Homo sapiens: one gene and its partners. The protein of the gene in region 2 purifies or fractionates together with the protein of the main gene of each other region. This does not show direct contact. Each region holds a gene or a part of one and is shown on either strand. Other genes may lie near its edges.

The links.
Region 1: the proteins of AMZ1 (region 2) and NHSL1 purify together in Homo sapiens (affinity purification with mass spectrometry; 2 studies listed by BioGRID and IntAct, with this or other methods). This does not show direct contact.
Region 3: the proteins of AMZ1 (region 2) and CYFIP2 purify together in Homo sapiens (affinity purification with mass spectrometry; 2 studies listed by BioGRID and IntAct, with this or other methods). This does not show direct contact.
Region 4: the proteins of AMZ1 (region 2) and SUSD5 purify together in Homo sapiens (affinity purification with mass spectrometry; 2 studies listed by BioGRID and IntAct, with this or other methods). This does not show direct contact.

What each region holds. Positions count from the first base shown.
Region 1 is NC_000006.12:138,426,471-138,433,494, reverse strand, and holds part of NHSL1 (NHS-like protein 1), read left to right. Parts: coding exon 1-3,102; intron 3,103-3,651; coding exon 3,652-3,784; intron 3,785-7,024.
Region 2 is NC_000007.14:2,683,431-2,691,209, forward strand, and holds the start of AMZ1 (archaemetzincin-1), read left to right. Parts: upstream 1-4,771; 5' UTR 4,772-4,866; intron 4,867-7,779. UniProt on the Homo sapiens protein: Probable zinc metalloprotease.
Region 3 is NC_000005.10:157,388,120-157,395,143, forward strand, and holds part of CYFIP2 (cytoplasmic FMR1-interacting protein 2), read left to right. Parts: intron 1-1,069; coding exon 1,070-1,308; intron 1,309-2,401; coding exon 2,402-2,549; intron 2,550-4,713; coding exon 4,714-4,881; 3' UTR 4,882-7,024. UniProt on the Homo sapiens protein: Involved in T-cell adhesion and p53/TP53-dependent induction of apoptosis. Does not bind RNA. As component of the WAVE1 complex, required for BDNF-NTRK2 endocytic trafficking and signaling from early endosomes.
Region 4 is NC_000003.12:33,152,798-33,159,821, reverse strand, and holds part of SUSD5 (sushi domain-containing protein 5 precursor), read left to right. Parts: intron 1-5,788; coding exon 5,789-7,024.

The DNA of each region.
Region 1 (7,024 bases), on a different chromosome or scaffold from region 2:
GGCAAGGCATTGCTGCCCAGATGGGCCACTTCTCAGGTTCCTCTGGCAACATGTCTGTGCTGAGCGATTCTGCAGGGATCGTATTCCCTTCCCGCCTTGACAGTGATGCTGGCTTCCATAGTCTTCCGCGTTCTGGAGCAAGGGCAAACATTCAGTCCCTTGAGCCGAGGCTGGGTGCCCTCGGCCCTGCAGGAGACATGAATGGCACTTTCCTCTACCAGAGAGGTCACCCACAAGCAGATGAAAACTTAGGCCATTTAGGAGGTGCCTCAGGGACTGGAACACTTTTGAGACCCAAATCCCAGGAGTTGAGACACTTCGAGAGTGAAAATATAATGAGCCCAGCGTGTGTGGTTTCTCCTCATGCAACCTACTCCACCAGCATCATCCCAAATGCCACACTGTCTTCCTCTTCCGAGGTCATCGCTATTCCCACTGCTCAGAGTGCGGGACAGCGGGAAAGTAAAAGTTCTGGCTCATCACATGCAAGGATAAAATCCAGAGACCACCTCATCTCCAGGCATGCTGTGAAAGGTGATCCTCAGTCTCCCGGTCGCCACTGGAATGAGGGCCATGCCACCATTCTTTCACAGGACTTAGACCCTCATTCCCCTGGTGAACCCGCACTGTTGTCCCTCTGTGACTCAGCCGTCCCTCTAAATGCTCCAGCAAATAGGGAGAATGGGTCCCAAGCTATGCCGTATAATTGTAGAAACAACCTGGCCTTCCCAGCCCACCCCCAAGATGTGGATGGCAAGAGTGAATCTAGTTATTCAGGGGGCGGAGGGCACAGCAGCTCGGAGCCCTGGGAATACAAATCCTCAGGTAATGGAAGGGCATCCCCCCTGAAGCCGCATTTAGCAACTCCTGGCTATTCCACTCCCACAAGTAACATGAGCAGCTGCAGTTTGGACCAAACGTCCAACAAAGAGGATGCTGGGTCGCTGTATTCTGAGGACCACGATGGCTACTGTGCATCTGTGCACACTGACTCTGGACATGGATCTGGGAATCTGTGCAATAGCAGTGATGGCTTTGGGAACCCCAGGCACAGCGTGATCAATGTTTTTGTTGGAAGAGCTCAGAAAAACCAAGGGGACCGGTCCAATTACCAGGATAAATCCCTATCAAGAAACATCTCTTTGAAGAAAGCAAAGAAGCCTCCCCTGCCACCCTCCCGGACAGACTCCCTCCGCAGGATTCCCAAGAAGAGCAGCCAGTGCAACGGGCAGGTGCTCAACGAGAGCCTGATCGCCACACTCCAGCACTCGCTGCAGCTGAGCCTCCCAGGCAAGAGTGGCAGCTCGCCCTCCCAGAGCCCCTGCAGTGACTTGGAAGAGCCCTGGCTGCCCCGCTCCCGGAGCCAGAGCACAGTTAGTGCTGGCAGCAGCATGACTTCCGCCACCACCCCCAATGTCTACTCCCTGTGCGGGGCCACGCCATCGCAGAGTGACACAAGCAGCGTCAAGTCAGAGTACACGGACCCCTGGGGTTATTACATTGACTACACGGGCATGCAGGAAGATCCGGGGAACCCGGCAGGGGGCTGTTCAACCAGCAGTGGGGTGCCCACTGGGAACGGGCCAGTCCGCCATGTCCAAGAAGGGTCCAGAGCCACAATGCCCCAAGTGCCCGGTGGTTCAGTCAAACCAAAGATCATGTCACCAGAGAAGTCACACAGAGTCATTTCTCCATCCAGTGGGTATTCCAGCCAGTCGAATACACCCACAGCACTCACCCCTGTGCCTGTGTTTTTAAAATCAGTGTCACCAGCAAACGGGAAGGGGAAGCCCAAGCCCAAGGTACCAGAAAGGAAGTCCTCTCTGATATCTTCAGTATCCATTTCCTCATCGTCCACTTCTCTTTCTTCTAGTACTTCTACTGAAGGAAGTGGCACTATGAAGAAGCTGGATCCAGCCGTGGGCTCTCCCCCGGCTCCTCCTCCTCCTCCTGTTCCCTCTCCTCCATTCCCTTGTCCTGCAGACAGGTCTCCTTTCCTTCCTCCCCCACCTCCTGTCACAGATTGCTCCCAGGGCTCTCCTCTGCCTCACTCTCCTGTGTTCCCCCCTCCGCCGCCAGAAGCTCTCATTCCTTTCTGCTCCCCACCTGATTGGTGCCTTTCTCCTCCCCGCCCTGCACTGAGCCCCATTCTTCCAGATTCACCTGTGTCCTTGCCATTGCCCCCACCTCTCTTACCTTCCTCGGAACCCCCACCTGCCCCACCTCTTGACCCCAAATTCATGAAAGACACCAGGCCGCCTTTCACAAATTCTGGCCAGCCAGAATCCTCCCGGGGATCCTTGAGGCCGCCTTCTACCAAGGAGGAGACCAGCAGGCCCCCCATGCCCCTGATAACCACGGAAGCATTGCAGATGGTGCAGTTGAGGCCCGTGAGAAAGAACTCAGGCGCTGAGGCGGCACAGTTGTCTGAACGAACAGCTCAGGAACAACGAACTCCAGTTGCTCCACAGTACCACTTAAAGCCATCTGCTTTCCTGAAATCCCGAAATAGCACAAATGAAATGGAGAGTGAAAGCCAGCCTGCCTCTGTGACAAGCTCGCTTCCGACGCCTGCCAAGAGCTCGAGTCAGGGTGACCATGGCAGTGCGGCTGAGCGTGGTGGCCCTGTGAGCCGCAGCCCTGGAGCTCCAAGCGCTGGGGAGGCAGAGGCTCGGCCCAGCCCCAGCACCACCCCACTCCCAGACTCTTCACCCAGCAGGAAGCCACCCCCCATTTCCAAGAAGCCCAAACTGTTCCTGGTGGTACCACCTCCGCAGAAAGATTTTGCAGTGGAGCCCGCAGAGAACGTGAGCGAAGCCCTCCGAGCTGTGCCCAGCCCCACGACGGGAGAGGAGGGCTCTGTGCACAGCAGGGAGGCAAAAGAGAGTTCTGCAGCCCAAGCTGGCTCTCATGCCACGCACCCTGGCACCTCGGTTCTTGAGGGAGGAGCTGCAGGATCCATGTCTCCCAGCAGAGTGGAAGCCAATGTCCCCATGGTTCAGCCTGATGTCTCACCAGCCCCCAAGCAGGAGGAGCCAGCCGAGAACAGTGCGGATACTGGGGGCGATGGGGAGAGCTGCCTATCTCAACAGGACGGAGCAGGTGAGTCTGGCTTCCTGGCTTCTCTCTCCTGTGCCCTCTGCCCATATGCAGCTGAACCAGATAGGGTTGTTGAATGCTCACACGTGGAAAGAACCCAGGTAGATCAGATTCCTGTTAAAGCTAGCAGTATGTAGGCTTCCTGTGTTAAAACACAGATTAAGTTACCAACTTTGCATTTTGTTATTATTTTTAAAATCTAGACCTAAAGGCATGGCAGAAAATAGGGGGATGGAGATGATCTGCAGCAGGCTGGGTATTAAATAGCAATGGGTAACACCTCCCTTCCGAAGAGCCGCGCAAAGAAACGTTGCAACAAAATTTAAGAGAGATGCCATGGGCGTTCCATACTTTAACAAAGAATGAGCTCTGGCTCTCAGGCTAGTGTCATTTCCTCCCTTCTTTGTAAACTATCAAACTACAGACCCACGGCATCTCCCTGTGGTTCTCACATTGTCGGGAATGGCAGGGAAGCAGCATATTTAGAAGCTTGGCTGAGGACTGAAATTCCAGTCACTTGTGCGTCTTGTATGCCTGCCTGCTCTTCTGTAGCTGGGGTGCCGGAGACCAACGCAGCCGGTTCATCCTCAGAGGCCTGTGACTTCCTCAAGGAAGACGGGAATGATGAGGTAATGACCCCCAGTCGACCCAGGACCACAGAAGACCTTTTTGCAGCTATTCACAGGTATTTCAAACTCCTTCCTCTGACTTTAATCTACTGTGTAATTCCTTCTTTCCAAGCAGCACCTCAATTTACTTTTCTTCCTTGAGGTTTCTTCTGTCACCCAATCATAACTCCTTAACTTTACTGTTGATTTTTTAGTGGGTTTCTACAGTTTTATTTCCTCTGGCTCCAATTTCTGTTTTACTTTGTCTCACTGATTTTTATGACATTGGGGACAGTGGCTCAATGTGATACGTTCTGGTAGGCGCTGCTCTTCCTGGCAAGGAGCGCAGTGTGGCAGTCATAAGACAGAGTATATTAGCAAGAGTCGGATTAAAGTGACTGACAGTGCAGTCAGGAGGAGGAATGCTATGTTCTGTGGACTTAGGATGCACAGACTAGCTCCATGGGACTCTCTTCCTAAAGATGTTTTAGTTTATTCTAATTTTTTTCATTTTACAGAAAAACCACAGTTATACAGAGCAATTTCTTTGGCTGCTTAAGTGTTTCTATAAAAGAGTACGGCCCTTTAAGCGGGAGCAAAAGAATGACTTATGCTTGTTAATATACCACTAGTGCCATCTACTGGCATCAGAAATCGTTGGGTTTAAAAACAAACAAAAAGGGTAAAATTTTCAAAGTAATGGCCTGAACTGTTACACTTTTTATATGTGGTCACCTTTAAGAGTAAATATGATTTAGCACTGAAGTTTTACTTACTGCATCACTTTTCTGATTGGAAACAGCTGACTACTCCCACACAGTGTCATCGTAAAAGCTGATGACTGTATATGTGCAACTACGTTAAGCCGTAATGCTGTATAAACCTTTTGCTTCCTTCTAGACTTCTCTACCACGGTATTTCCAGGTAACTCTAATGAATGTCCTTATGCTGCCAAGGCCTTATTTTGCCCTGAATGAAGATCCTTTCTTTTTTTTTAACCTCCTGAAACAAAGCATCCTGTAGAATCATTTGATTCTGTGTGTGAATGATCTTATGTCAGCACTGCTTTCCCAATTCTTGGACTCTCCCTGAAAAGACTATTGCATAAGATGAAAAACATAGTGCTGTACCTACCTGAAACTCTTCATGCAACACATTAACATCTAACTTGGTGTGGGGGGAACGAAGCCGGTGAATTAATGTTCTTGTCAAGAATTACGCTCTTTACGTCGCTCCTCTAGTGTTGGTATAATAGATCCTAAAGACTGCCCCTTTTAACATGGACTGGTTTCTTCAGTCTCATTAGAAGTGAAAAGGTAGCTGGTTGTCCAATTATTTCTCAAAACAGAGAAATGATAAATGATGCATCCTTTGAAACTTCAGTGGCAATTCTAGAAGTTCCCATAGATGTTTCTAACTCTTAACCACGCTAGACACATAAGAAGCACTCAATAAATATTTCCTGAATTAAATGAAACCAACTGGTATTTAACCATTAGAAGATTCTTCCAAGACTCAGAGTATTTCATTTAGTATGGAATGCACTGGGTTGCTAAATATACAGGCATATCTGTCTATTTATAATAGCCATCCACAGAGAAGATTTGCGTAGCCTGGTTGTTCTGTGTACTCGATACTTGGTTCCAGTGAGGAAACCCAACTGTTGTGGGTCCAAATTACTGCATATTTTTTCCCAAAAATATGCCAAAGGCCTCTTCTATATTTTGGCAACCTTCTTAAGGCATCGAAAAATGTGTTGTTTCTCTTACTAGGACGTTACATCGACTGCAGATGTAGAAATCGGTCAGTTGGTGTTACTCAGTGCACGTATGAGAGAAGTCAAAGCCAAATAGGCCTTAGGAATGGATTGCAGAGAGAGAGTGAGGACATATGCTAATTTCTGTTGTAGCGTTGAGAATAAATTAGCAGACATAGTAAAAATCCATCTACTGTCTGTGCTTTTTTAGGGCTTTATTTTTATGTCCTTCAGCGCTTAAGCTCATAATTTAAAATAAAGAATATCTAAGTTGAAACACAGCTTCCAAATTTTATAATGCAAATTAATTCGCTTCAGATTTAAAGCCAGATGGAAAATGTAGAACACCAGTTGAGGTGTGAAGTTTTTATATTTATTGAAGTAATTAGTTTTAAAATCAGTGTTAACTGTTTAAGCACTTTTTATAGCTCTCTTCATTAAAAATACATATTCGTGTGTGTGTGTTGTGTATGTATATGCAAAGAATTTGTACATTTAGATTTAATTATTTTAGTGGGCACCTGCTCTTGAGAGATGACAGTGCTTTCATAAAATCCCATCTTTCTTCCTTTTTTTTTTTTTCTTTTTGATACAGAGTCTCACTCACTCTGTCACCCAGGCTGGAGTGCAGTGGCGCGATCTTGGATCACTGCAACCTCTGCCTCCCAGATTCGAATGATTCTCCTGCCTCAGCATCCCAAGTAGCTGGGATTATAGGCGTGTGCCACCATGCCCGGCTAATTTTCGTATTTGTAGTACAGACATGGTTTCACCATGTTGCTCAGGCTGGTCACCCCATCTTCTTTCTTAATTCTATGTCTACAATTAAAGGTCATAGTTTTACTCAAGTTTAGTTGTGACTTGTTTAATGGATCTCAGCATACTCTCACCGTTTAAAATCTAAATTACAAATTAAGTCACCAGCCAATACCTAAAAGAATGAAATGAGCAGAGCTGCTTTGGGGAGTAGACCATGTAAGTGGTGAGGCCATGTGCTATAAGCTCAAGTCCTAGTTGTCATACTAACAAGTTACCTTTTCTCAGTTACCTTTTCTGAAACCCAAAGTGGTTGGACTAGACCATTTCTAACGTCTTTTCTAGCTCTACAGTTTCGAGATGTTAGGATGTCTGTAGTTTTGTCAGCCGGTCCTAACTCTTATCAGGGCAGACTGCTCTTGTTAACTACTGAGTGGGACCATGAAACCTGTATGGTAGGCCATGTTCTGCAGTCCCAAAGAGTCTGGTGCCCTGTCCACTCTGGCCACCCTTCAGACCCTGTATTGGGTCCTTACCATTTCCCAGCCTCTGCTTTAGTGGCATCTTTTTGACCAGAAGAATGGAGATGACGCCAGGAACACCAAGCCCAGGGCAGCCAGCATGGGCCCATGCTGCCCTCTGTCTTGCTGTGTAAGCCACGTAAAAACTAAATCCATTTTCTATGTGACATTCAAAGGTTTGTTAAGCACCTGCTCTATGCCTGACCAATTATGGCTATCACTGCATTCATGAGTACTGACAAACTGTGACCTATATACTGTTATTCCCCTTTTGGTGATAGGAA
Region 2 (7,779 bases):
GTTTGTTTTTGTTTTTGTTTTTTTTGAGACAGAGTCTGGCTCTGTCACCCAGGCTGGAGTGCAGTGGCACGATCTCGGCTCACTGCAAGCTCCGCCTCCCAGGTTCACACCATTCTCCTGCCTCAGACTCCCGAGTAGCTGGGACTACAGGTGCCTGCCACCACGCCTGGCTAATTTTTTTATATTTTTAATAGAGACGGGGTTTCACCGTGTTAGCCAGGATGGTCTCGATCTCCTGACCTCGTGATCCGCCTGCCTTGGCCTCCCAAAGTGCTGGGATTAGAGACGCGAGCCACCGCGCCCAGCTCTGTCTGTTTTTTACAATATTTTGTAGAGATGCTGCCCAGGCTGGTCTCCAACTCCTGGGCTCAAGTGATCCTCCCACCTCGGCTTCCCAAAGTGTTGGAGATTACAGGCGTGAGCCACCTCACCCAGCCTCTTTCTCTCTCTTTTTAAAAAATTGTTGGCTGGGTGTAGTGGCTCATGCCTATAATCCCAGCACTTTGGGAGGCCGAGGCGGGTGGATCACTTGAGGTCAGGAGTTTAAGACCAGCCTGGCCAACACAGTGAAACCCCATCTCTACTAAAAATACAAAAATTAGCTGGGCTTGGTGGCACGCGCCTATAATCCCAGCTACTCAGGAGGCTGAAGCAGGAGAATCGCTTGAACCTGGGAGGCAGAGGTTGCAGTGAGCCAAGATCACGCCACTGCACTCCAGCCCGGGTGACAGAGCGAGACTCCATCTCAAAAAAAAAAATTGTCATTATTTTTTACATTGTCTTGTTCCTCCAATGAGGAACCTCTTTCTGTCTCTTACAAAGTCACTTGCATTGGATTTAGGGCCCACCCTGACTCTGACCCAGGATGACCTCATCTTGAGATCCTTACTTTAACCATATCTGCAACGACTCGGTTTCCAAATAAGGTCCCATTCTGATGGTGCAAGTAGGCACATTTTTGGGAGCCGCTATGTAACCCACCCTGGGGAAACTGAGGCAGGGCAAGGTGAAGCAGCTTCCCCAGGCCACACAGTTCTCTTTTAACCCCAAGTCGGCCTGGGTCAGAGGATGGTGATGGGGTCAAAGTTGGGGGCGGCCCCCTTTGTTCATCACTGAAAGGACAGGGGTCCCCATATCACGGCCTCTTTCTAGAATAGACTCTGACGAGGTAGCTTCAACCAGAAAGGGGTGTGCAGTCTGCCGGTGGGAGACCAGCGTGTCCCGGGTGCAGTGTGGACAGGGCGTTGGCTGAGTGAAGCCTTGGCTGGCAGGGGCCAGGTCATCAGCAGGCTGCCTCTGTGTTTCGGGGGTCCTGGCACTGGGCATGGCGCCACCCAACTTGGGGCACCCAGGAGGGGCCCTACTCATCTGGGCTTCCAGTCTCCCGGGCTGACCCAACAGACAGAGGAGGAACTGCCACTCTGGGCTTGACACATAATTGCTTTTTTTTTTTTTTTTTTTGAGACGGAGTCTCTGTCGCCCAGGCTGGAGTGCAGTGGCGCGATCTCAGCTCACTGCAAGCTCCGCCTCCCAGGTTCACGCCATTCTCCTGCCTCAGCCTCCTGAGTAGCTGGGACTACAGGCGCCCGCCACCACGCCCGGCTAATTTTTTGTATCTTTAGTAAAGATGGAGTTTCACTGTGTTAGCCAGGATGGTCTTGATCTTCTGACCTCGTGATCCGCCCGCCTCGGCCTCCCAAAGTGCTGGGATTACAGGTTGAGCCGCCGCGCCCGGCCTCGATGCATAATTTCCTTTCCGGTGGCTATTCAGGGAGGGGCGTGGGGGTTGGGGGGAGGATATTCCACAACTTCTTTGTAATAAGCAGCTTTAGGACAGAACATTCAGGCCAGGCTCGGTGGCTCACGCCTGTAATCCCAGCAATTTGGGAGGCCAAGGCGGGTGGATCACTTGAAGTCAGGAGTTCGAGACCAGCCTGGCCAACAGGGTGAAGCCCTGTCCTTCCTAAAAATACAAAAATTAGCCGGGCGAGGTGACGGGCACCTGTAATCGCAGCTACTTGGGTGGCTGAGGCAGGAGAATCGCTTGAACCCAGGAAGTGGAGTTTGCAGTGAGCCGAGATCGCGCCACTTGTACTCCAGCTCTGGGCAACAGAGTGAGACTCCGTCTCAAAAAAAAAAAAAGGCCGGGTGCGGTGGCTCATGCCTGTAATCCCAGCACTTTGGGAGGCCGTGGCAGGCGGATCACGAGGTCAGGAGATCGAGACCATCCTGGCCAACATGGTGAAACCCCATCTCTACTAAAAACACAAAAATTAGCTAGGCATGATGGCAGGCGCCTGTAGTCCCAGCTACTTAGGAGGCTGAGGCAGGAGAATGGTGTGAACCCGGGAGGTGGAGCTTGCAGTGAGCCGAGATCACGCCACTGCACTCCAGCCTGAGTGACAGAGCGAGACTCCGTCTCAAGAAAAAAAAAAAAAAAAAAAAAAGAACATTCATCTTTTCTCAGGTTCTGGGTTCTCCATCCCCAACAGAAATAACCTGGAAAATCCCTGCGGCAACACGTGTGAAGAAGTGCAGCTTTCTGAGTCACAATCTATTTGTAGGAATTTATCCCAAGGTGAGGGGGACCAGATACCTGTACAAAGATCTGTGGAAACAAGATCGTCTATCACAGTGATATATGCTAGTGAGACACCAGGAGAAACCAAAATATCCCAAAGCAGGTGACAGATCCATGACACGGAGTCCAGCGCAGACCATCAGGGTGTGGAGACGGACTTTTGGCTATTGATGAGTGTGAAGTCACGGGCCGCCTGCAGAACGCAGTATGTGACGTGAATCCCTTAAAATATGTATTTAGGCTGGGCACGGTGGCTCATACCTGTGATCTCAACATTTTGGGAGGCCGAGCTGGGAGGGTTGTTTGAGCCCAGGAGTTTGAGACCAGCTTGAGCAACATAGCGAGATCCCATCTCTACATAAAAGTTTCAAAATTAGCCAGGTGTGATGGCACGTACCTGTAGTCTCAGCTACTCAGGAGGCTGAGGGAGGAGGATTGCTGGAGTCTAGGAGGTCGAGGCTACAGTGACTCGCGTTTATACCAGTGCATTCTAGCTTGGGCAATAGAGCAAGATCCTGTCTCAAAAAAAACTTTTTAAAAATACATTTCAATGTGGAGGAGAAGGCGATCAGAAGGATGTCTGACAAGAAGGTGAGAGAGGTTACCTCTACACAGTTGGCTTATGGGGTCTTCTTTTTGTTTTTATTTTTCATAATTTTCCAAATTTTGCACACCGGACACCTAGTGTTGTGTTGTTTTTCTCTCTCTCTCTTTTTTTTTTGAAACAAAGTCTTGCTTTGTCACCCAGGCTGGAGTGCAGTGGCATAATCTCGGCTCACTGCAACCTCCGCCTCCCGGGTTCAAGTGATTCTCCTGCTTCAGCCTCCCGAGTAGCTGGGACTATAGGCACCAGCCACCACGCCCAGCTAATTTTTTTATTTTTAATAGAGACGGGGTTTGACCATACTGGCCAGGCCGGTCTTGAACTCCTGACCTTGTGATCTGTCTGCCTCAGCCTCCCAAAGTGCTGGGATTACAGGCATGAGCCACCACGCCCAGCCGTGTTATTTCTTAAGGCTTAAAAAAATTCTTTGAGGCTGGGTGTGGTGGCTCACGCCTGTACTCCCAGCACTTTGAGAGGCTGAGGCGGGTGTATCATGAGGTCAAGAGTTTGATACCAGCCTGGCCAAGAAGGTGAAACCCCATCTCTATTAAAAATACAAAAATTAGCTGGACACAATGATGGGTACCTATAATCCCCACTACTCAGGCGGCTGAGGCAGAAGAATGACTTGAACCCCGGAGGTGGAGGTTGCAGTGAGCCCAGATTGCACCATTACACTCCAGCCTGGGCGACAGAGCGAGACTCCATCTAAAAAAAAAAAAAAATTCTTTGCACTGGTGTGGGACGATGGTGACGAATCCCTCAGCCATCTGTGGGGCGCTGCTGAGGGCGTGGGGGGCATTTCTGCACGGTGAAGCAGAGCTGGTGGGAGGCTGCCCGAGGGAAGCTGGTGCTGGGAGGGTTTGCAGAGAGGAAAAGGGCAGTTTATGGAAAAGGCCTCTGGGCTCTGTCTGGAGCCGTCATGCCGGCCTTCACGGCATCCTTCCGCACTTAGAGTCCTTTCCATCTCCTGGTGGCTGGCACAGGGCCAGGGCTGCACTCACAGCTGGCCAGGGTAGGGCAGGGCGCCCGTCCTCAGGGCCACTGACTGTAGGGCTAACCTAGGGGCCTGGTTCACCCCTCTCACCTGGGGCTTCGCTGATAAGCCTGGTTCACCTCCTCACCTGGTGGCCTCGTTCACCCCCTCACCTGGCGCCTTGCCTGATAGCCTGGTTCACCCCTCTCACCTGGGGCCTCTCCTGGTGGCCTGGTTCCCCTTCCTCACCTCGTGGCGCTGGTTCACCCCTCTCACCTGGGGCCTTAACTGGTGGCCTGGTTCACCTCTTCACCTGGCGCCTTGCAGAGTAGCCGGGTTTACTCCTCTCACCTGGGGAGGCACGAACTGGCCCGGGCTGACTGACCTCCCTCACCTGTTTGGCTTTAGGCTCTGGGGCCCCCCTGCCCGGGTGTTTCTGGGAGGCTGGAGGGTCCCACGTGAGCTCCACCGCGGGCAGCTGGAGGGAGTGGGGCAGGACGCTGAGCGCCGGGAGGGGTGTGGCCCTCCTGTCCTGCCCGCGGCCCCACACCGGCCCCAGTCCCGCCCGCCTCGGTCCCTGCCCCGCGCGCCGACGTCACCGGGACCTCCCGATCCTCCCGGCCCAGGCCGAGCTGCCCACGCTGCTGCCCGGGGCTCGGTGCCCGGCGCGGCCTCTGCCGGCTCCGGCGGGCGCGGGACTGCGAGGTAGGGGGGCGCGCGGGGAAGACTCGGGGGCGCAGGGACCGAGAGGGACCTCCGTGCCGGGGCGGGTGGGTAGGGGCAGCTCCGGGTCCAGCCCGGCCCGCGCACCAAGTCCCGAGGGCGCCCGGGCGGCGGCGGCTACGGGCGCGCGGGGACCGCGGAGACGCGAAGGGCGCACTTGGCGAGGGTTTGGTGCAGCGCCGCGCCGGGGTCCGCACAGCCCCGGCAGGTCCTGCAGAGGGAAGGCCGGGCCAGGGAAGGGCCACGCGCCCCCTCCCCGCCATCCTCTCCCAGGCCAGGGCGACCTGCGCGCTTCCCGATGGGAGCAAACTGGGGACGGGTCGGGAATCCAGGGCCAAGCGCCCGAAAGAAGGCGTTTCCGGGCTGGGGCGAGCCAGGTGGGTGCGGGACGTCCCCGGGGAACCTCCAGGGCGCCGAGAATCTCGTCGTGCCCAGGGCTCCCCGCAGCCTGTGTATGAGCCGGGGAGGGAGAAGGCTTCCTCCCCCAGGAGACTGAGGGAGAAGGCTGTGGATATGATCCCTGCAGGGATGTAAGACAGGTCTCAAAACCAGAAAAGCAAGGGAGGGGTGACAGAGAAATGGCAAACTTTACAAAGGACAGGGGAGGGCAGGGACCTGGGTCCTTTCTGCCCCCATCACGGGAGGGAAACACTTGGCAGAGGAGTTTGGGGTTCGCAGGTGAGGAGAGAGAACAGGAAGCCAAGAGTCTGGCCCGGAGGCCACTACCCCTGCGGTCTAAGCCCCCGGTTTTCCCTCCTAGCGAATGGAAACTGAGAGGTGAGAAACCCCCAAAACCATCCGTCCGTCTGGTTCTGCCTGAAGGTCTCCGCTGTCAGCTAATGAATAGCTCGATGCAGCTGCTGGGAGGTTTTGCAAAGCGCATTCAGAATAGCGAGAATCAGAGCATGGTTTCTTGCCCAAAGGCCAGGCATCTGCGTGGTCAGATGGGGGAGCATGAGTGCCCGGAGCTGTGCGGTTTAGGGCAGCCTGACCTTGGATACCTGGTTACTGGGCCAGTCTGGCGGCCCTTGTTGCTTAGAGCGGCAGAACCTCCCTGGGGGGGGGATGCGGACGTGCTCTTTTCCAGTCTTTGGACAAAAAAAGGCAAGGGGAGGAGGAAGGAGAAGCGTCTGAGTTTACCCATGGTATTAATAGCAGCAGGGCTGGAACTCGGGTGCTCTGGGAGAGGAGACGTCCTACCCCCTGTCCCCGTCAGAACATCCCTGCTCCAGGAGCAGCTGGGGTTCCAGTGTGAAGCGTGGCTTTGAAACCAGGCCCCGCTGGCCCCCAGCTGTGTCGCCAGGGCCAAGTCACTTAACGTCTGAGCCTCAGTTTCCCCACCTGAAACACCGCAGTGGCACCTGCGGCTCCGTGTGTGGCTTGGAGGACGCAGGCATGAGACCTGTTGGCTGCTGTCATGACTGCAGTTAGCAGAGGAGGGGGACACACTGTGACAGGGTCCAAAGGACAGCGAGAAACCTCCATCTGGGGGTCTCCTTTTTGGAGCATGGATGGGTTGGTGAGTGCCAGAGGGTGCTGCGAAGCTGACCCCCACTAAGGCGGCTCCCTCCCCGTGGGTACCCCCAGGGCTCACATGCAGCTCTGGCTCTATGTGAGGAGTGGTCTTGTGCAGAAATGACCTGGCAGGATGGAAGGACTCAGCTGGCAGCTGACAGTGGGGACCGGGGTTTTCCTGAATGACCCACGAAGACGAATGTGGCCACAAGGCTTCTTGAGAGGAAATAGTATGTGGGCAGACGTCATGCCCTGGATGCCCGAGAGCTGTACCCGTGTTAAGGGATGGAGGGAGCTAAGCGTTCTCATTCCTAGCTTGGAGCCTGTCACACCATTCTCCAGTCTGCACTAGGAGGTGGCTGTGTTTTTGTGTGTGTGTGAGAGAGAGAGAGAGACAGACAGACAGACAGACAGGGTCTTGCTCTGTCTTCCAGGCTGGAATGCAGTGATGCAATCATAGCTCACCACAGCCTCGACCTCCAGGGCGAAAGCAATCCTCCCATCTCAGCCTCCCTAGTAGCTGGGACCACAGGCATGCACAACCATGCCCAGCTAATTTTTAAAATGTTTTGTAGAGACGGGGTTTTGCCATATTTCCCCAGGCTGGTCTCAAACTCCTGGACTCAAGCGATTGTCCCGGGAGGTGGCTATTTTTAGAGCTTGCCTCTCACATCCTGTTGATCTTCCAGCCGGGCTAGTCTGGAGCTGGCGTGGCCACTCCTTCCCGGGCGGCTCAGGTTGGCTGAAGGTGGTGTTGTGTCTCTGGCTGGGTTTCCGATGTAGATGCTCTTGAGTTACCCACGTGCCCGCCACTGCTTGCGGGTGTGCAAACGGCCTCTGTGGTCGTGGCTCCTCTGTGCGTGTGCTCTGGTCCCCTGCAAAACTTGTCGCTGTGGCCCTTCCTGTTGCTCCCATTCGGTCCTCCCTGAATAACTTAGATGGGCCTGAGGTTGGCAGTTTGGGCCCAAGTCACACCTGGAACCAATGTGGTAGGGCTTGTGAACTTTTGGTAAAAAGAAGGCATTTCTCAGCCGGGTGTGGTGGCTCACCTCTGAAATCCCAGTGCTTTGGGAGGCCGAGGCAGGCAGACCACTTGAGGCCAGGAGTTCGATACTAGCCTGGCCAACATGGTGAAACCCTGTCTCTACTAAAGATAACAAAATTAGCCTGGCATGGTGGCATGCGTCTGTAGTCCCAGCTACTAGGGAGGCTGAGGCATGAGAATCGCTTGAACCCTGGAGGAGAAGGAGGTTGCAGTGAGCTGAGATTGTGCCACTGCACTCCAGCCTGGGTGACAGAGGCAAAAAAAAAAAAAAAAAAAGCATTTCTCATTTCCTGATGCTTTGCCTGGAGTAGGAGGGTTTGCTGGCAGGGAAGCCT
Region 3 (7,024 bases), on a different chromosome or scaffold from region 2:
TGAGAAGCCTGCCTTTTTTAGCTTTGTTCACAGATTTGGAGACCTTACTTTAACCTCAGATTTTAACATTTACCTTACTTTGCAGATAGCTTTCAGGACCTCTACCCCTACATGTTTTGACTCATAACATGTGTAGTAATGTGTTTTGACATCTAGTCTGTCTAGCCAGCTGCTTATTAGATATGCAGTAGCCAGAACCCAGATGAAAAGCCAGTTTACATTATTAATAGAGGTCATTTGTAACTGTCAAAGAAGCACTTCTAGAGGAAATAATTATCTGAAATCATGGGCAAGTTTTAAAAGTAACATATGCTCATTGTAGCACATTCAACTGTACAGAAGTATTTAAAGTCAAGAGTGACAATCCCACTCACTACTCCAAGCCCATCTGTTCCCACAACTGATGTTAGTCCTTCTAAAATATGCTTTACACACACACATCACACATACTTTCATCTGTGTGATTGTACATTGTCAATGTTTTTAAGTAGAATTGTAGTATACATTCATTTCTGCAATTTGTTCTATTTACTTTACAACTTAACCAATAGATCTAGACTACTGGGTCAAGTGTGAGCTTTAACACTCACTGGCTGCCTCTCTGAACCTTAGTTTCTTCGTCTGTAAAATGGGGAGAGTAATGGCATCTACCTCATGGGATGGAATGGACTCAATACCTATCAAGTGCTTAGAACAGGGCCTGCTTTATTACCCACACTCAGAAAGCATAAGCTAGTAGTAATTATAGTAGAAGCAGTAGTACTACTAGTAGTATCATGTCAGTCTTTTCAATGGCTATCCAGAATTCATTATGTGGGTAAATCATAATTTTAAAAATTAATCCGCTACTGATGGTGCCTGGATTTTACTTAACACCAGTAAGACTTACCATGAAACTTCCCTGCTGTTGCATTCAGGATCATCAATTTTGTGCCCTGCTCTGAACAAGACCAGTTCTGGTGAACCAATTTCAGGTGCAGCCAGCTCCAGAGTTCGGGAATCTGTGGTGGGAGGTGGCAGATGGGCTCTAAGATGTGGATAGAAGGTGTATGTGCCCTTCTGTTTCCAGCAAATCGCCATTGCTCGCGAGGGTGACCTCCTGACCAAGGAGCGGCTGTGCTGTGGCCTGTCCATGTTCGAGGTCATCCTGACCCGCATTCGGAGCTACCTGCAGGACCCCATCTGGCGGGGCCCACCGCCCACCAATGGCGTCATGCACGTCGATGAGTGTGTGGAGTTCCACCGGCTGTGGAGCGCCATGCAGTTCGTGTACTGCATCCCTGTGGGAACCAACGAGTTCACAGCTGAGTGAGTACCCCCCAGAGAAGGCAGGGTTACCCCCAACCTGCCTGTGCTCCTGCAAGTCATGGGGCTGCCAGAGTTCAGCCAGAAACGTGGGCAGGGGGTGGGGGTGGTTGGCCAACAACTACTTTGTTGAGTGTGTTGAGCTGACTGCATTGGCAAGAAAGAGCCCAGTAAGGGTTTGATAGTAAGACCCTCACTGCCTGCCTCACCCCCACTACACTGTACTACTGGAAAATGAGGAGCCTTTAGGAGTCCTTAGAGCAGACAGCAGAGCTAGTTCTTCCTGCCCTCACCCAGCTACATGTCTAGGACAGAGTGGAAAGGCAGACAAGGCCTCCCCTCCAGCAGCCAAGAGCTCTAGGAAAAAGGCGTGGTGGGGAGAGGAGGCTTCCTGGAGAAAGTGGTGTTGATGAAGCTGTTTCAGAGCAGCGCTAGCCTGTAGGCTTCCAGTACAGTGATGGGGAACTGGGGACACCTGCCCGGGTTGGGGCTGCTGCTTGAGGACAAAAGAGACAGCCAAAGGATGACTCTACTGCCATCCAAATTGCCTAGGTCTCTTGAGAGTTGGGGGCCAGGCCTCTTGAGAGTTGGAGCTTTGTCAGAACCAAAAGGACTCAGCCTCAACCCCAGCAGCATCTGCCCACCATGGCCTGTCCCTTCCCTTTCAGCCTGCTTCTGGCCAGTTGGCCTCCTGGTTTGAAATGGCCCCTCACCTGCTAGGTGTTCTTTTAGCTCCTTTAGAGAGTCAAGACAGATTCTCCTTTGACCTGCACGGAGTAATCAGCCACATACATCTCAACAGCTGGGTGGGTTTTTCCTTGCAAATTCAGAGCGTCTTTAGAGCTGATTTTTTTTTTTTTTACATTAGTGATGCAAATGTAATTTGTGGCCGGAAGGACTTATGACATAACTACCATCCCTGCAACTAATGAACCCACCCTCACAGCTTCCTTTGTACCCATTTTATAGGTTAAGAGACTTGGCCCAAAGACAGGCCTGCTTAGTAGCTGTACTCCTGGCCCAAGATGAGGCTCCCTCCCTCCCTGCCCTCCTCCCCCGACCTCTCACTCCAGCTGCTTCCTCCCCCTGCTCCCAGGCAGTGTTTCGGCGATGGCTTGAACTGGGCTGGTTGCTCCATCATTGTCCTGCTGGGCCAGCAGCGTCGCTTTGACCTGTTCGACTTCTGTTACCACCTGCTAAAAGTGCAGAGGCAGGACGGGAAGGATGAAATCATTAAGAATGTGGTGAGCAGGCTGGTGGCTAAGGCCTGGGAGGTGGGGCTGGGCTGACAACCAGGCTTTTACCAGAAAAGCAAACAAGGAGGAGCTGCTTGTGAAGGCCAGCTCCCCACACGGCAAGTACAAAGATACTATAGGCTGGGGACCTGCTTAGAGGAAGTCGTGAGGTCGTGAGTCACCCACTCATCACCTACTGCCATGAATCAGTTCACCCCGAAGGGCAGGGCTGGGCTCCAGACCGGGAGCACATCTTCCCTGTCCCAATCAGACTCTGCTGATGCCAGTTTCTCACCTGTACAAATATTCACCAAATACCAGAGTTGTACGGGGCACCTGGATGGGATAGGTACTGGCGTGGGGTGAGCCAGGCTGCTATGGGAAGGGAGAGAAGGACCCTTAAACCAGGCTGAGGGCAGAGAAAGCTTCCCAGGAGAGGGAGGCTGTGTCTGGGCTGACTCCAGAATGGCCCGCAGCAAAGAACCAAGCAGCAAAGGTGGTATGGGGCGGGTAGGATGCTCCAGACAGCAACAGTGACAGCAGAGGCACTGAGGCAGGAAGGCGGATCGAAGGGTGGGTCTCAGGGACCCAGTGAGAGGAGAGAGAGGTAAGAGCCACCTCACAAAGGGCTTTTTTAAAAAATACACATAAAATAGTTTCAATGGTAATTTTCAGTATATGATTCAGTGGCATGAAGTACACAAGTATTGTACAATCATTCCCAACATCCACCTCCAGAGATTTTTCATCTTCCCCAACTGAAACTCCGGGCCCATTAAAAAATAATTCCATTTTCTCCCCAGCCCCTGGTAACCATCATTCTACTTTCTCTATGCATTTGACTACTCTAGGTACCTCATATAAATAGAATCACACAGTATTTGTCTTTTCGTGACTGGCTTATTTTAGTTAGGATGTCTTCAAGGTTCATCCATGTTGTAGTGTCCAAACTTCCATCCTTTTTATGGCTGTATAATATTGCATTGTGTATATAGACCACGTTGTGTTTGTCCACTCAGGTTGCTGTCACCTTTTGGGTATTTTTGAAAATGGTTAATTTTGGCTACCATGAAACATGGGTGTACAAATAACTCTACAAATTTCTGCTTTCCATTCTTTTGAGTATATACCTGGACGTGGAATTGCTGGATCGTATGGTAATTCTATGTTTAACTTTTTAGAAACTGCCATTCTGTTTTCCATAGTGGCTGCACAATTTTACATTCCCACCAGCAGTACACAAGAGTTCCAATTTCTCCACATCCTCATCAGCACTTATTCTTTAATAATAGTCATCCTGAGGGGTGAAAAAGTTATCTTGTTGTGATTTTGATTTGAATTTCCCTAATGACTGTCACTGCTGAGTGCTATATTCATGTGTTATTGGCCATTTGTATATCTTCTTTAGAAAAATGTCTATTCAAGTCCTTTGTCCATTTTTTTAATTGAGTCATTTTTGTTGAGTTGAAGTTCTTTACATATTCTAGATATTACTTATCAGATATAATTTGTGATTATTTTCTATTTTTCGGTTGCCTTTTCATTCTCATGGTGTCCCTTTGATGCATGAAAGTTTTCAATTTTGATGTAGTGCAACTTTTTGCCTTTGCTTTTGATGTCATACCCCAAGATATTATTGCCAAATCCAACATCATGAAAATTTTTCCCCTATATTCTCTTTTAAGAATTTCAGTTTAATCTCATGGTTACGTCTCTAATCCATTCTGAGTTAATTTTTTGTATATGGTATAAGGTAAGCGTCCATTGTTATTTTTTGTGTGGGTATCCATATTTCCCAGCACCTTTTGTTGAAAAGGCTGTTTCCCCCATTGAACAGTCTTGGCACCCTTGTTGAAAATCATTTGATCATATGTGTAATAGTGTATTTCTGGGCTCTCTATTCTGTTTTATTCATCTGTACATCTACCTTTTTACCAGTGCCACAGTGTTGTTGATTATTGTAGCTCTGTAGATCGTTTTAAAACTTGGAGAGGGTTTTTACGGTCCAGTTAACACTTGATTGCCAGATCCAGGGGATTCCATAAAAGGACTTTAAGAAAGTGACATGATCACTGATGCAGGGGACCCTGGACCTCAGTGACTTCTCCTGTTACTCCCTCTTTCCACCCCCACTTTGTCCTGCCCTAACTTGAACATCCCCTTCCTTCTGTAGCCCCTGAAGAAGATGGCCGACCGGATCAGGAAGTATCAGATCTTGAACAATGAGGTTTTTGCCATCCTGAACAAATACATGAAGTCCGTGGAGACAGACAGTTCCACTGTGGAGCATGTGCGCTGCTTCCAGCCACCCATCCACCAGTCCTTGGCCACCACTTGCTAAGCAGAAGATCCTGCAGACCCTTATCTGGAGGAGGAAGAGAAGCAGGAGAGAGAAAGCCACAGCCAGCCTGCCATAGGATCCAACTGGACAACGTGTGGGATGGACCTGGAAACAAGCACCTCCCCAAACACATCACCACTCCCTAGGGCGGGGCCTGTGCATGCTCTCCCATGACATCTCCATGCTGGTTTCTCCATAGCATAAATGAAAAAAAAAAAAAAAAAGTAAACAGGGCAGTGTGTGCTTTTTCTTTTCTCCCCCCTCAACTATATTAAGAACTCCTAGTTTCACCCTTTCTCCATCCCATCATCCCACCTATCTGTGGTTGCTTCCCAAGACCTCCTCCCAAGATAGACATCTCCTACCCAGTGCCCTTGTGTGACCCCAGGACTCAAGTCTCAGACTGTGAACAGATGTGGCCATGCCCAGAGACGCCAGCCTGGCCAGAAGGGCATGCCTCAGCTTACTACTTCATCTCTCCTGGTTCCCTCCCTGCAGTGCCCCGGGTGTCATCTTCTCCCACTCTGGGTACCAGGGATTCTACCACATAGGCTTCCCAAAGCCCCATTCTAACTCCCCTCTCTCAGGGAAGCCCTAGAGAGAGGTCCAAAAAGCATTCACAGCTGTATCACACTCTATGCAGGTGGGGTAGGAGACTGATCAGGCCTGCTGTGGGGAAGCAGTATGTATGAACACAGCCAGAAATGTCATAGTCCAAACAGGATGCTTTCAGGCCATCTCAGCTGCTTGATGGTGAGATGGTTCCCTTATTCCTTCAGGAAAGGCTTAGCATTGGGCCACATAGGGGAAGCAGCTTTGAACAAATCAGTCATAGCACTGCCTATAGCATTAGCCAGTGACCAAATTAGGGACAACGTCTTGGCACAGAATTGCTTATCAAGGAACATTTCCACAAGAAAGAAAATATTAAGGGGTTATTTCCACAGAAGCCCAAAACGTCTTGGAAACACAGAGGTGAGGAGGAGGAATAGTAATTGTCAATGAGCTTTTAATACCAAGATACACCCCCTGCCCCCAAAGAAGAGTCCTCTTTTAGGGAATCAGAACCTTCATTGTCCTAGAAGCTGAAAGATTCTTGGAACATTTTAGCTTTTACTCTCAACTTGCTGTTCTCTTTACATTCCTTAAGTTAGACTTTCGGGTGTGGCTTCTCTCCCAGGGGTAACATTTACTTCCATTTTCTAGACTGAACCAAAAGTCTTCTGCAGAATCTCCCACCGAGTGTGGTAAGAAGGAAGGACAAAAGGCTTTAGGATATAAATTTCATGTTACAGAGCATGTCATTGTCAAAGGAAATCTGTGGCCCTGAGATTTTAAGAACATAAAATGTGACATTTGATATTTCTCCAGCCCAGGGAAGTAAGATGGTTAGCAATGGTTGCCTTAATCAAATGGTCCCATTTTTAACCCCAAAGGAAGTGCCCACAGCAAGAGGTTTGTGTGATGCACTTATGTCCTCCGGTGAGGAAAGGGGGCCACATATGAAAGGCCCCTTAGGTCAGATCCTGAGAGTAGCACATTTGAGTGCAGATTCCTGGGCCCCACCTCAAACCTACTAATTCTGAATCTCTGGGAATAGGGCCAGGAAATCTGCCCTTTCTACAAACTACCCAAGTTGTTCTGTTGCACATCAATGTTTGGGAACCACTGCTGTAAGGGAATCATTCTGGTCACCTTGAGCTTTGAGCTACCACTAAGCCATGAAAGAAAATACATCATACAGGGAAGAGAGAAGGGAGGAGGTTCCAAGTAGTAACTGGCAGATCCTCCTGTCTGGAGGTACCACCTTCTATTCTGGTTTCTGACTTTTCCTTCTTGATGACCATAGATGTGTTCCAGAGGCAAAAGAGACACATTATCCCAGATGGCAGAACATGCTTTCAAAACATATAAAATGTCAAAGTTCCAGATCCTTCTACATCTTTAGTCCTGTCTGAGGATGGTAGCTGGCTCTCTGTAGCTGATAGATGGCTAGAGTTCCATCCAAATCCTTGACCACGACTTCATGGAGATTTGAATAATCTATTTGATGAGATTTCTATTTCAATAACCCACCTCTCTCACCCCACATTCATATCCCTAAATTTGACCCTCTGGGCCGAGTCACATTACCTTCAGGAGA
Region 4 (7,024 bases), on a different chromosome or scaffold from region 2:
GAGGTTGCTGTTGGTAAAATGTTTTTGCTGATGTTTAGTATAGTTTCCTCATTTTTAGAAATTCACATTCAGTAAGCCCAGTTTTATGTTTGTGTTTGTGTGTGTGTGTGTGTGTATGGGTGTGTTTGGTGGTGTTTCCCCATTTTGGTAGGTATGGGGGAGGGAAAAATATACGATACAGTTTCAACTGGAACACTTAGATATTTTCAAGTGTAGCCTGTAATGCACCCTGCTCATAAGGCAATTTTGGCCTGTATCCCCAGTACATATTCTAGTGGTCTGGAACATAAGTGATGAGGTAGAAGAAGGAGGAAGAAGAGCAGAGGGACGGGCAGCCAGAAGCAAGAACAAAAAGGCAGGGAGCACTGGGGCAGATGGAAGTGAAATATGGGGTGTGGGCATAAGAGACAGGGAAGAAGCCGGAGCAGAGGTTACAGCGAGACTTGTCAGGGCCACAGATACTCTGAGGTGCTGGAAGATTTTGAGTATCCCTACAGTCACACTTCTTTTTAGCTGTTGGTTATTTGGGTAGAATTCTGCTTTCCCGTGGACAGTATCAGTCTTGGTATCTGCAGAGGTGACAAGATGGTGGTCCATGAGGACAGTGAGGAAGCACTTCGACTCACCACCCACCTTGACACCGACAGCCTGCCAGCTTTCCCATCACCTAGGACTGCCTTTGGCAAAGCTCTGTGCAAATGTTGTTCCCTTTCATCATGCTGACTGAGTTCAGCACAAACAGCTTGTTTACTCCCAACAGTCAGTGAGCTATAGTTGATGACCTGAAAGAAAATGAATGCACTCTCCGGATTCGTGCAAGCAAGAATGGGAAATGACAAAAATACCATGGAATAAAATAGAATCTGGGGTTCTTCACGGTTCGATGTCTTGGGGCTGCAATGAGGCAACAAAAAATATTCCCTAGTAAAATGACGTGTGGAAAGAGGCCTTAAGGTATAGCTGGTGCATGAAGTGATGGCCTATGCTTTCGAGTGGGTGGAAGCTTCTTGAGGAAAAATGATCTTGGAGAGTTACTGCTTCCTACCTTACCCCTCATGAAAGGGGGCCGGGTTCTGGCTGAGAACAGGGATATTCATCCTCAACAGCAGAACCTCTAGGAGACAACTGGCAAAGGTGTATTGTTTCACAAAGATAATTTCTTCTGCAGTACCGCAGAATATGTTCTTTTCTTTAATTAAGAACAAATTGGTTGGGGCAGATTTGGGGCAAAAATGACTGGTCAGACATGTGGAATGCCAAGCTTCTTTGCATTAGGAGCAAGCTTTGATGGAGCGGGGTCACCATTCTGCTTGAAATCGACTAGCAGTGGGGAGGGAGTTCTACTAGGCTACCCTTTGAAATTGATAGGGATGTGGGCACCAAGGAGAGGCTGGGATGAGAAGAGATGCTCTCACCAGCCAGGCTGTGGCAGCGATTTGCTCACCAGTGTGTGAGGGTGTGTGTTGTGTGCACGTATGTGGTGCACACCTGTGTGTGTTTGTATTCAATTGGTCCTTCAACAATGGCGTCTTTTCAGAGGGTCTTCGGGGTGTTATGAGAGACTATGGGTACAAGTGATTTATTCCGTGTAATTTAGAAGTGGGCCTATAGTCCTCTTGTGTTTTGGGAGACTGTGCTCCTGGAAACTGATCCCAGTGCTGAACAGTTTTAAGGTAGCAATGAAGAGAAGCTTGGGATCTGAGCTGTTGCAGACTTTTCCTTGTTTTCCTTCCAGAACCATTTATTCTTTCACTCACTCAAGAATACCTATAAGAATACCTATAGTAGATAAGCACTGTTCTACTTTAGGGACACAATGCCTTGGGGCCTGCTCCCCAAGCAGCTCATTGCTAGTGTGTTAGTTAGCTTTTTCTGCATAATAGACCATCCCCAAAAACTTAGTGGCATGAAACAACAATTTATTCTGCTCCAGTTCTTTGAGTCAGCAGTTTGGGCTGGGCTCACTCAGGTGAATGTGGTCAGCCACAGCTGGCTAATCTACGGTGGCCTCAGTTGGGACGTTTACCTCTCCTTCATGGGGTCTTTTATCCTTCAGCATCCAGGTTTGTTCACATGGCAGCTGGCAGGGCTCCGAGGCAGAGAGCAAAGGTATGCAACACTTTCATTGCGTTCAGTAGGTCAAAACAAGGGACAAGGTCAGCCCAGATTCTAGAGATGAAAAAATGGGCCCCATCTTTTCATAGGAAGAGAGGTGCAAAGTCACATTGCAAAAGGACTTGATGCAGGGAAAAGTGGAGATTTGTGGCCATTATTGCAGTCTGTCTTCCACAGCCAGTAAGTACACACATGTGCACAAGCAATCTAACCACCTTATCCTGAGGTCAAAGATATACGTCATGACTTTCTTAAATCTCAGTGTGACTTGTCTGTATGTTTTGGGTAAATTGTAGTGAAAAGTTCTGTCATAGTGGCATTCATTTCATTTTGTTGTTTTTTGAAGGAAGGACAGTACTTCAATGCAAAACCTAACGCCCATTCAGAATGTTGGGTGAAAATTTATGCACACAAAATCTTTGAAGTTCAACCCTATAGGATGCAAGACCATGAGATTCTGTCCCATATGCTCCAACGGGGGAGGGAGTATTTATCCTGTTCACCAGTGATCCCAAACTCTAGCACATAGTCAGCACTCAGTGAGGTCTGTTGAATGAAGGAGTGGGTCAGTGCAGGTTTTGAAATGAGGATATAACAGGGAATGTGAAGGGCCTGACTGAGCCCTGGGAGCCTGTATGTGAATTCTACAAGGCTCATTAGAATGGTCCAGCCATCTGATATGTTTTTTGTGTGAGGTTTTATGAACAGGACACAATGGGGTGTGATTGGGCTGTCCTTTTCTAAGCATAAAACACGCATGCATTTGATATTTGTCAGTGATGTTTGCTCTTCATCCACTGTTTCCCTTTTCTGACTGAGGACACATGTAAAGTGAATGGGCTTACATGTCAGGAGCAGATCAGAAAAGATTGTTAACTTTTATTTATAACTCTGTCAGTCATTAAATAAGCAAGATACAGAGTCTTATTCTCTAACAGCCTTTAGAAATAAGCCAGATACCCACTAATCTAGTTTCAGAGCCCAGGAATGCACCACATGACACCTCAGCATTCCATCTAGACCTTGGCTCTGGAGCTCTGTGCATTTTGTTCTTCCGAAGTTGAAAGTTAAGTGGGAGAAGCAGTCTGTTTTAATAATTTAAGTGTATCTTCCAGTAGGACTTGGCTTTCAAAGACCATTGAGAGAGGGGAAGGTCAAAGGGCTGCTGCTGTCTTCTGAGGACACCAGCTTCTTGAGCTTTCCTGACCAGTTGATTCCCCTCTCATCGGGCTGTCCTTACATTCTGGTCTCCTAGTTGTGGGGCTCTATTGCTTCTTATTCAGTTGAATTCAGAATACTTTACAGCATCATCTCATGACTTGGAAGTTTTACAGAGAGCAAATCAGTGTTTTAAAAGATGCATTTGGGGGCCGGGCGCGGTGACTCATGCCTGTAATCCCAGCACTTTGGGAGGCCGAGATGGGCGGATCACAAGGTCAGGAATTTGACACCAGCCTGGCCAACATGGTGAAACCCTGTCTCTACTGAAAATACCAAAATTAGCTGGGTGTGGTGGTGTGCACCTGTAATCCTAGCTACTCAGGAGGCCGAGGCAGGAGAATCGCTTGAACCCGGGAGGCGGAGGTTGCAGTGAGCCTAGATTGCACCATTGCACTCTAGCCTAGGAGACAGAGCGAGACTCTCTCTCAAAAAAAAAAAAAGATGCATTTTTGAACTTAATTATAAAATACATACGAATCATAAGGCAACAAACCAATGAATTATCAAGAATAAACACTGATATTTAGGCCTTGACACAGGTGAAGAAATCGAATATTGCCAGCACCCTAAAAGTCCTGTTTGTACCATACCCAGTCATCACCCCTTCTCTCCTACCCAAGTGTAACTACCATCCTGAGTTCCGACATCCATAGATTAATTCTGCCTGTTTTTAAACTTTATATAAATAGAATCAACACAGAGTGTGCACTTTTGTGCCTGGCTCAACATTATGGCCATGCAATTCATCTATTTTGTTGTGGGAAGCAGTGGTTGGTTCATGTTTATTGATGTACAGATTTGCATTGAGTATACCATAACTGATGTACCAGTTAATGGACATTTGAATTGCTTCCAGTTTTTTACTATTATGAACATTCTTAGGCGTGTCTTTTGGTACCCATATGCACACATTACTGTTAAGTGTATATATTTAGGAGTGGAATTGCTGTGTCATGGAGCATCCATATGTTCAATTTTAGTAGAGATGCCCAGTTTTCCATCGTGGTTGTTCCAGTTCACACTCCCACTAACAGTGCTGTATATCCTAGTTAACATTTGATATTGTCGGTCTGTTTAATTTTAGCCATTCTGGTGCTATGCAGTGGTATCTCATTATGACTATAATTAACATTTCTCTCTTACTAGTGAGGTTGAGCATCTTTCCACATGTTTAATGACTAATCTGATATCTTTCTGGTGATGTCCCAAGTCAACTATCTTGCCAATTTTTCTATGGTTTGTCTGTCTACTTAGTATAGATTTGTGGGAGTCCTTTTTAAATTCTGGATACAAGCCCTTTGGAGGTCATATGTGTTGCAGATAGCTTCTCTAACTCTGCCTTGCATTTTAACTCTCTTTGTGGTAGCTTTTAATGAACAGAGGATCTTCATTTTAATGTAATCCAGTTATCTGTCCTTGTGCCAATACCACAGCCTTAAAAGGTAATGCAGTTTTATAGTAAATCTTGAAATGTTTTGCATATGTCTTCCGGCTTTTTCTTTTTCAATATCGCCTTGTCTATTCTTACATTGCATTTCCATAAACTTCCATCCATTGCATTTCCATAAACTTTAACATTCAGTTAATGTCTGAGATTTTTATTGGAATTGTATTAGATCTGTATAGATCGATTTGGACAGAATTGCCAACTTAATGATCTTGAGCCTTCTACTACATGATCATGGTCTATTCCTCCATTCATTTAAGTCTTCTTTAATTTTGCTTAGCAATGTCTTATATCATTCCATGTAGAAGTCTTGAACATCTTTTGTTAGATTTATTCCTATGTGTTTGGTTTTTTTAATGTTATTGTAAATAGCATCCTTTTAAATTTTAATTTTCTGTTTATTGACAATATTTAGAAATACAATTGATGTTTATATTTACTGTAGACCTAGTATCCCTAATAAACTCACATGTTTTTTGTTGTTGTTGTTTTTGAGTTGTTGTTTTTGTTGTTGTTGTTTTTGAGTCTCACTCTGTCACCCAGGCTGGAGTGCAGTGGTACGATGTTGGCTCACTGCAACGTCCGCCTTCCGGGTTCAAGCGATTCTCATGTCTCATCCTCCTGAGTAGCTGGGATTACAGGCATATGCCACCATGCCTGGCTATTTTTTTGTATTTTATTAGAGATGGGCATTCGCCATGTTGGCCAGGCTGGTCTCGAACTCCTGGCTTCAAGTGATCCACCTGCCTAGGCCTCCCAAAGTGCTGGGATTACAAGTGTGAGCCACCATGCCCGGCCTAAGCTCAGATGTTAAATTTTAGTTACTTGTAATATTCATATGTAGATTATTTGGGTTTATCTATGATACACAGTCATATCATCTGTGAATAATAACAGTATTATTTATTCTGTCCCAGCCTTTATGCTTTTAATTTCCTTTTCTTATGTTCTATACTGGCTCTGTGCCTTTGGAGCTAATGAGGTTTTTTCCCTCTTTTCTTCCAGATGAGGCTGAGGCACACATTGACTATGAAGATAACTTCCCTGATGACAGATCTGTGTCATTCAGAGAGCTCATGGAGGATTCCCGGACAGAGGCAGATGAGGACAGGGGTCAGGGAGACTCCTCTGAGGAGGCTCCAAAACAGGACCGTCTGGTCTCCATTTCTGTGGGGAGAGAAAACATAGCCCGGGATAAAGTCTTTGTGCCAACCACAGGCTTGCCTGGTGCTGGGAGCAGTGTCCCCGCAGATTCACCAGGATCACGGCTGCTCCAGAAGCACTTGTTCTGGTTTCCTGCTGAGGCTTTCCACAAGCCTGGGTTGGAAAAGGAGGTGGATGATGACACCAAAAAGCAGTTTTCTGCTGGAGACAACCACAGTGGTGTAAAATTGGTCCCAGGTGAACCTGAAACCAAGGTGATCTACGGCAACACTGATGGTCCCTCGGGGCCATTTGTGGGCAAGAATGACAGCAAGGCAGGAGATCCAGTGGTGAGCAGCAGTGATGAGTCCTGGTTAGATGGCTACCCTGTGACAGAGGGGGCTTGGAGGAAGACAGAGGCAGAAGAGGAAGAAGATGGGGACAGAGGGGATGGGTCAGTAGGGCTGGATGAAAACGTCCTAGTTACTCCTGATCAGCCCATTCTTGTGGAAGTTAAGAAGCCCAAGAGTAGCACCCTCACACCAAGCGAGGGCATGACCCATAGTTCAGTTCTTCCATCTCAAATGCTAGATGTGGAAGCTTTGGCGCTCAGACCCGTGAATGCTTCCGAGACTGAGGGCATTGGGGATGGTGACTTGACGAAGTACCAGTCAACTCTACCCTGGAGATTCATCACAGAGGAATCTCCCATGGCCACCCTGTCCTATGAGCTCACCAGCTCCACCCTGGAGATATTAACAGTGAACACTGTCAAGCAGACACCTAACCACATCCCCTCAACGATCATGGCAACCACCCAGCCTCCAGTAGAAACCACTGTTCCTGAGATCCAGGATAGCTTCCCATACCTGCTGTCTGAAGACTTCTTTGGACAGGAAGGCCCCGGGCCAGGTGCAAGTGAGGAGCTTCATCCCACCTTGGAGTCGTGTGTGGGGGACGGATGTCCTGGCCTCAGCAGAGGCCCTGTGATCGCCACCATTGTCACCGTCCTGTGCCTACTGCTGCTCCTGGCAGGTGTGGGGATGGTGTGGGGCTACCGCAAGTGCCAGCACAAGAGCTCTGTGTACAAGCTGAATG